2 linked regions of the Homo sapiens genome follow. The protein of the gene in region 1 interacts with the protein of each later gene in a pairwise test. Each region holds a gene or a part of one and is shown on either strand. Other genes may lie near its edges.

The links.
Region 2: the proteins of CREB3L1 (region 1) and SEMA4G interact in binary tests that used the Homo sapiens proteins (3 or more experiments, as listed by UniProt).

What each region holds. Positions count from the first base shown.
Region 1 is NC_000011.10:46,308,571-46,312,306, forward strand, and holds part of CREB3L1 (cyclic AMP-responsive element-binding protein 3-like protein 1), read left to right. Parts: intron 1-1,418; coding exon 1,419-1,497; intron 1,498-2,461; coding exon 2,462-2,619; intron 2,620-3,736.
Region 2 is NC_000010.11:100,972,504-100,976,003, forward strand, and holds part of SEMA4G (semaphorin-4G isoform 1 precursor), read left to right. Parts: intron 1-25; 5' UTR 26-409; coding exon 410-533; intron 534-625; coding exon 626-774; intron 775-1,043; coding exon 1,044-1,106; intron 1,107-2,481; exon of another isoform or gene 2,482-2,581; intron 2,582-3,500. UniProt on the Homo sapiens protein: Cell surface receptor for PLXNB2. May play a role in axon guidance.

The DNA.
Region 1 (3,736 bases):
CCAACTCGGTGCCTCCTTTGTGTTCTGGGCATGTTGCACATCCTCCTTCTCTGTAAAAGGGGCTCATGAACCCCCTAAGGTGCTTCTAGCCCTGGGATTCCACAGGATGAGCAGCATCTTAAAATCCCTAGATGGGAGCGTGGCTGGCCCTGCCCCCTGCTGGCCACACGGCTCACTTGCTCTAACTGTACGTGGCTGAAGGCAAGAAAGGTCAGCCCCTCCCTGCCCCACCACAGACCCGTGGGATCAAGGGTCGGCGGCAAATATGCAGGATCTTTTGAGACCATCTCCAAGACTGGCTCTGAGACTCCTCAGGCCTTGCCAAAGCAGGAAGGGATGGAGTGACAGCAGCAGCAGCCAGGGAAGAGGAGACTTCAGAAAGGGAAACTGAGGCTCAAGGGGTTAAGTAATTTGCCCAAAATCATGCAGTTAGAAGCAACTGACATGCCTTCCAAATTCGGCCTGCCAGACCCTGAAGCCCACGCGAGTGAGGTCATAACCCCTAGTGGAAGGCACAGGAGCTGGCATTGTCAACAGTGAGCTCTCTGCACCGCAGTCCCCTCTCTGTCACTTGAGGGCTGAGCTGGGATGTAGACCAAGGAATCTCCAAGGTCCCTGCCAACTTGAACCTTCTGGGATTCTTACTCATCAGCCTACATTCTGGATTCTGCGTCCCACCCACAATATCATGATCTCTCTGGGGCTGCAGCCCAGGGCCTGCAATCCAGCCCCCAACAACGCCTTCCTCAGACAGAGCACCACTTACTTGCATGTTGGTAGTCATGTGTACAAAGCCATGCATGCTCTTGAAGTCCTTTCTGGAACAACAAGTCAGAATAGAAATAAAGAGAAATGCATGTTTGTTAAAAATGTCCATCTGATTCTATCAAGCCCTTACTTCAACCCATTAGGAGCTCTCATTGCCTCCAACTTCTTTGTCTAGATTCTACTTCTATTTATACCCCGGGACTCATTTCAGACTTTGACTTCTCAGGGAGCATCCTCGGAGCCCCCAGCCAATTAATGCCTCCTTCTGTACTACTGCTACCAGCCATTGAACAGCTACACTGTTCCAGACATTACCTCTTGTTTTATTCTCATGGCAACCCACATACCAAAGCCTGTGTGGCCTTCACAGTTGGTGTGGAAGGTGGCCCCACACTCAGAGGCTCACCTTCTCTGAGCTTAAGGTCTGAGCTACACTGCTTGGCCAGCAATCCTTTCTCTTAGGTGTGACTTGGCTTCTTTAAGCTCAAGAGCTTGCCTCTGTTCCCTTGCAGCTGTGCCCAGAACTCCAAGCCCAGCCACTTCCCCAACTGTGCAGGGCAGGCAACCAGCTTTAGGGAGGAGGTGGGTAGATGGCATGGTGGGGACAGACCCAGGGGCAGCTAATGGAGCTGGGCTTGTCTGTTCCTCAGGCCCCGGGAGAGATGACTCAGCTGCCAGTGATCAAAGCAGAGCCTCTGGAGGTGAACCAGTTCCTCAAAGTGACACCGGGTAGGTGTGTCCAGGGGAAGGGCTCTTTTCCCCTCCAGTCATAGGCAGATAGCATCCCCACTTCCTTGGTTCAGCCCATCCCTATCTCTTGACAACCTTCCCCCACCCAGAATATCCTCTCCACCCTGCCCTACCCACTGTCCCTCCATCCATGCCCACTCTTCGTCTAGTCCTCTTCGTTTTTGTTTTTTGTTTGTTTGTTTGTTTGTTTGTTTTTTGAGATGGAGTCTCACTCTGTCACCCAGGCTGGAGTACCATGGCACGATCTCAGCTCACTGCAACCTCCCCATCCCAGGTTCAAGCAATTCTCCTGTCTCAGCCTCCTAAGTACCTGGGATTACAGGTGCCCACCACCACGCCTGGCTAATTTTTGTATTTTTTAGTAGAGACGGGGTTTGGCCATATTGGTCAGGCTGGTCTTGAACTCCTGACTCAGGGGATCCACCTGTCTCAGCCTCCCAAAGTGCTGTGATTACAGGGGTGAGCCACTGCACCCAGCCTTCGTCCAGTCCTCTTCTTGCCCAATCTACTGCTGCCATCGCTCCTGCTTGCCCAGCCTGACCCTATGAGAGAGAGGCCCCAGTCACCTTCTGGGGTTGCTGAGCTAGAGCTTAGTGATCTTCTGGAGTTGCTGAGCTTAAGGCCCTGAACCCTGTGAAGTCAGAGGTCACAGAGGACCTCCCACGAATTCAGCTCCTATGATGTCTATGCCAAGGGCGAGCTTGTAAAGGAGCTGGGCCTCTGTGGTGTCAGATGAGGCAGCACCCAGGAATTGGCTACCCAGATGTCAACTGTCTTTCTGACCCTGCAGAGGGGCTTCTGATGTCATAGCTGAGACCAAGCGCCTGGCAGTCCGTGTCCCACAATGTCAGGGCTGGTGCAAGCTCATGCTCAGCTGAACTCATGATGTCCAAGTGGAGCTGATGTGCAACGTTGCTAACTCGGTTTCCCCTGCTCTCCCCAGAGGACCTGGTGCAGATGCCTCCGACGCCCCCCAGCAGCCATGGCAGTGACAGCGACGGCTCCCAGAGTCCCCGCTCTCTGCCCCCCTCCAGCCCTGTCAGGCCCATGGCGCGCTCCTCCACGGCCATCTCCACCTCCCCACTCCTCACTGCCCCTCACGTAAGGAGCTGGGGGTGGGCTGATCCCAGAAATGAGGAATTGAATACATCCACCTGAGCACACTGGCCAGTCAGGAGGGTTTGGGGAGCCCCGAGACTGATCCCCACCCTCATCAGAATTCAGAGGGATGCTTACCTGGCAGATGGGAGTTCTAATCCTTTTATTTTTGAGTCTTGCTCTGTTGCCCAGGCTGGAGTGCAGTGGCTCAATCTCGGCTCACTGAAACATCTGCCTCCCAGGTTCAAGCAATTCTCCTGTCTCAGCCTCCCAAGTAGCTGGAATTACAGGCACTTGCCACCGTGTCTGGCTTTTTTTTGTTTGTTTTTTTTTTTTGAGATGGAGTCTCGCTCTGTCGCCTGGAGTGCAGTGGCACGATCTCGGCTCACTGCAACCTCCACCTCCAGGGTTCAAGTGATTCTCCTGCCTCAGCCTCCCGAGTAGCTGGTATTACAGGTGCACACCACCACCCAGCTAATTTATGTACTTTTAGTAGAGACAGCATTTCACCATGTTGGCCAAGCTGGTCTCAATCTCTTGACCTCTTGATCTGCCCACTTCAGCCTCCCAAAGGGCTGGGATTACAGGCGTGAGCCACCGCATCTGGTCAGGAATTCAAATCCTTTCGCCCTGCCTCATGGTGAACAGGAGACTATTGCAGAGCCAGGACTAGAACTTGACATTCCTGACCTCCAGGGGATGACCCAGGCTGCCTCCAAGGAGCGCTGTGTGAGGGGAAGTGCCCAGATGGTCCAGAATCCCCAGGAAACATGGAGCTAGGCCCTGAGCCCTGGGATGGGTGTGGAGTCTCCCAAGCCAAGATTGTAGGGAGGGGTCTGAGGGAGATGCTGTTTGGGGCACCCTGGACAAGTAAGCTTTGAGGGTGCAGTCTCAGGGATGGGATCCAGGAAGCCCTCCCGAACAATGCACTAAGAGCCTAACACCTGAGCTCTCAGCATGGCCCTGGCACCTGACACATGTTACTGAATTTCACCCAGATCCACTCCCTTTCCAGATGAGGAAACTGAGGCATAGAGCATTGTGTGCCTTGCCCAGGTCATATAGATAGCACATGGCAGAGCTTGAATTTGAACCCAGGGCTGCCTGGCTCCTAACTACC
Region 2 (3,500 bases), on another chromosome or scaffold:
TTTTTTTTCCCCGTTTTTTCTTCAGAAAACGGACCTCAGAAAACCAGGACTAGCTCTACTGTCGGGGGCAGGGTGACCCCATCAGTAACCTACAACCCCTCTAGAACTTCACAACTCCCTCTCACCATGGAGTTTGCATTTGATGCAGAAAGGCATGTGATCCCTCCCTCCTTCTGACCTCTTAGCTGGGGATTCCATGGCCACACAACCCTGTGACTCCATGTCCCCCCGATTCCAGGACCCCCCATGGCCCCATGATTCCTTGACTCCTATGACCTTATGACCCCTGACCTTCCAAGTGACTTCCTTGGACTTTGACCCCTGTGACTGTGCTTCCCATTCCCCGCCCCCACAACCTGTGACTCTGGCTCCCTTTGGGGGTCTTGTTAGTCTGGGCCTCCCCAGGAAGATGTGGGGGAGGCTCTGGCCCCTCCTCCTCAGCATCCTCACAGCAACTGCAGTCCCAGGACCCTCACTGCGGAGACCGTCTAGAGAACTAGATGCCACCCCTCGGATGACCATACCCTATGAAGGTTAGACCCTCAACCTCAAAAGGCAGCAGAAGCCAGGGCTGGGGGTGGGGAGGCACCCCAGAACTAGGGCTCACTGTTCCTGCTCTCCCCAGAGCTCTCTGGGACCCGGCACTTCAAGGGCCAAGCCCAGAACTACTCAACACTGCTGCTGGAGGAGGCCTCAGCAAGGCTGCTGGTGGGAGCCCGAGGTGCCCTGTTCTCTCTCAGTGCCAACGACATAGGAGATGGGGCTCACAAAGAGGTCAGGCCCTGGAACCTGGACCACCCAGAGGGTCTCTATGCTTATCCAGCTCCCTGGGACCTCAACTTCCTTAAAACCCTGCCAGCCTTCCATAGCCCCCTGGTCAGACAGCACTGCCCTTCCCAGCCCAGGTGTTCCTTGCATTCAGTGTTCCTCCTGAAATTGATCCCCACCCCAATTTCCCCAACTCTGTGGGGTCCTATTGCCTGGTCCTATGAGTAATAGGTATTGGGGTCAGTGCATCAGCCTATTCCCTTTGCCTCCACTAGATCCACTGGGAAGCCTCCCCAGAGATGCAAAGCAAATGTCATCAAAAAGGGAAAAACAACCAGGTATGTGGTCTGCCCTGTCCCCAGCTCCTTTCCTCCCCTTCTTCCTCAATCAGGGATGCCAGGATTGTTGGGGACACAGATGGGTAGGTACAGACCTGCCAGTCAATCTCAGCAACCACAGTAAACATTGTAAGTATTGCCAGAGTGGCAAGCCATGGGCACAGCATTTTTTTTTTTTTCTTTTTTTGAGGTCGGATCTCACTCTGTCATCCAGGTTGGAGTACAGTGACATGATCATAGCTCCCTGTGGCCTTAAACTCCTGGGCTCAGGGGATCCTTCCACTTCAGCCTCCTGAGTAGCTAGGACCACGGGCACATGCCACGCCCAGCTAAGTGTTTTATTTTTTGTAGAAACAGGGTCTTGCTATGTTGCCCAGGCTGGTCTTGAACTCCTGGCCTCAAGCAGTCCCCCTACCTTAGCCTCCCAAAGTGCTGGGATTACAGATGTAAGCCATTGCCCCCGGCATCTGGGCACAGTACTTCTAATTCAACCATCTGGTGGCCTACTAGTTTGTCCCGCAGTGGCATCTTCATCTCCTCTGGGATCCCAAATAATCAAAATGGCAATAAGTAGGCTGAACGCGGTGGCTCACATCTGTAATCCCAACACTTTGGGAGGCTGAGGGTAGGAGGACAACTTGAGTCCAGGAGTTCAAGATCAGCCTTGGCAACACAGCGAGATCTGTCTACAAAAAAAATACAAAAATTAGCCAAGTATGCTGGCGTGCACCTGTAGTCCCAGCTACTTGGGAAGCTGAGTGGGAGTATCACTTGGGCCTGGGAGGTTGAGGCTGCGTGAGCTATAATTAAGCCACACATTCCAGCCTGGATGACAGAGCAAAACCCTGTCTCAAAAAAACAAACCAACAAAAAACAGTAAGTAACCTCTACAGATGCTTACTTACGATGGGTTACTTACCAATAAAACCATCATAATAAATTGAACCATTGTTAAGTCAGCAACTATCTACAGCAAGTGATGATTTAGCTATTATCTCAGTTAATTCTAAAATAACCCTATGAAATAGTATTATCCTGCATTTTGCAGATGAGAAAAATGAGTCTTTGGTCAAGGAATAGGTCAAATACCCAGTATTCCATGGACAGGCATTAATGAAGCATCAGCCCTTTCCAGCTAAAGAATAGGGTGTCTCCAGGGGTCCCATGTCTGGCTAGGTAATGGCTCCATCTGGAGAGCTTTTACAAAATAAACGGCCCTGGGCTGGGCATGGTGGGTCACACTTGTAATCTCAACACTTTGGGAGGCCAAGGCAGGAGGATCACTTGAGCCCAGGAGTTCGAGGCCAGCCTGGACAATATAATGAGACTCTATCTCTAATAAAAAATAATTAAAAAAAAATTCCCAAGATCCACTGGGCCAAGGTGGGCCAGGGGTGGTGTTGGGACAGCTCCGTTTAAAAAGGCATCTCCAAGAGCTTCCATCAAAGGCTGCCTCTTGGTGCAGCACAGGTAGAAAATGGGGCTGGGGAGGCAGATGGAACCAGGTCATGGAAGGCCACAGATGCCCAGCTGGGAGTTTGGGTTTTATTCTGTGACAGTGAACACCCTCAGAATTTGATACTTTAGAGGCTCTAACTTTAATGTATCACCCAGGTATATTATAAATGCAGATGCTAAACTTAGTAGGTCTGGGGAAGGGCCCAAGAGTCTGCAATTCTAACAAGCTCCCAAGTGAAGTTGATGCTGCTGGTCCCCAGACCACACTTTGGATAGCAAGGCTTTATAGAACAGTTCCCAAAGCATGTTCTGAGGAACATTAATTTTCAAAGGAGGGGTTTAAATGTCAAATGAGTTTGGGAAACACTACATGCCCAGTCCCACAATGCACAGCAACATCCTTCAGGCTCTAGGAAGTAAGCCCAGTAAAGATAGGTTTCACCTGTGGTTTCCAAAGTTATTTGACCAGAGAATTCCTCCCTACCCCCCTTTAAAAAATGTAAACATCCGCTGGGCACGGTGGCTCAGGCCTGTAATCCCAGCACCTTGGGAGGCCGAGGCGGGTGGATCATGAGGTCAAGAGATCGAGACCAGCCTGGCCAACATGGTGAAACCCTGTGTCTACTAAAAATACAAAAATTAGCCCGGCATGGTGATGCACATCCATGCGAGTAGTAGTCCCAGTCACATCACCATGGTGTTGAGAGTAGTAGTCCCAGCTACTCGGGAGGCTGAGGCAGGAGAATCTCTTGAACCCGGGAGGCGGAGGTTGCAGTGAGCTGAGATCATGCACTGCACTCCAACCTAGCGGCAGAGCAAGACTCCGTCTCAAAAAAAATAAAATTAAAAAAATAAATAAACATCTTGGGGAAACATCACTTTAGGAATATTTATCTGGCCCCAGGCACTGGATGGATGAAAATAGGGTGAGTCTGG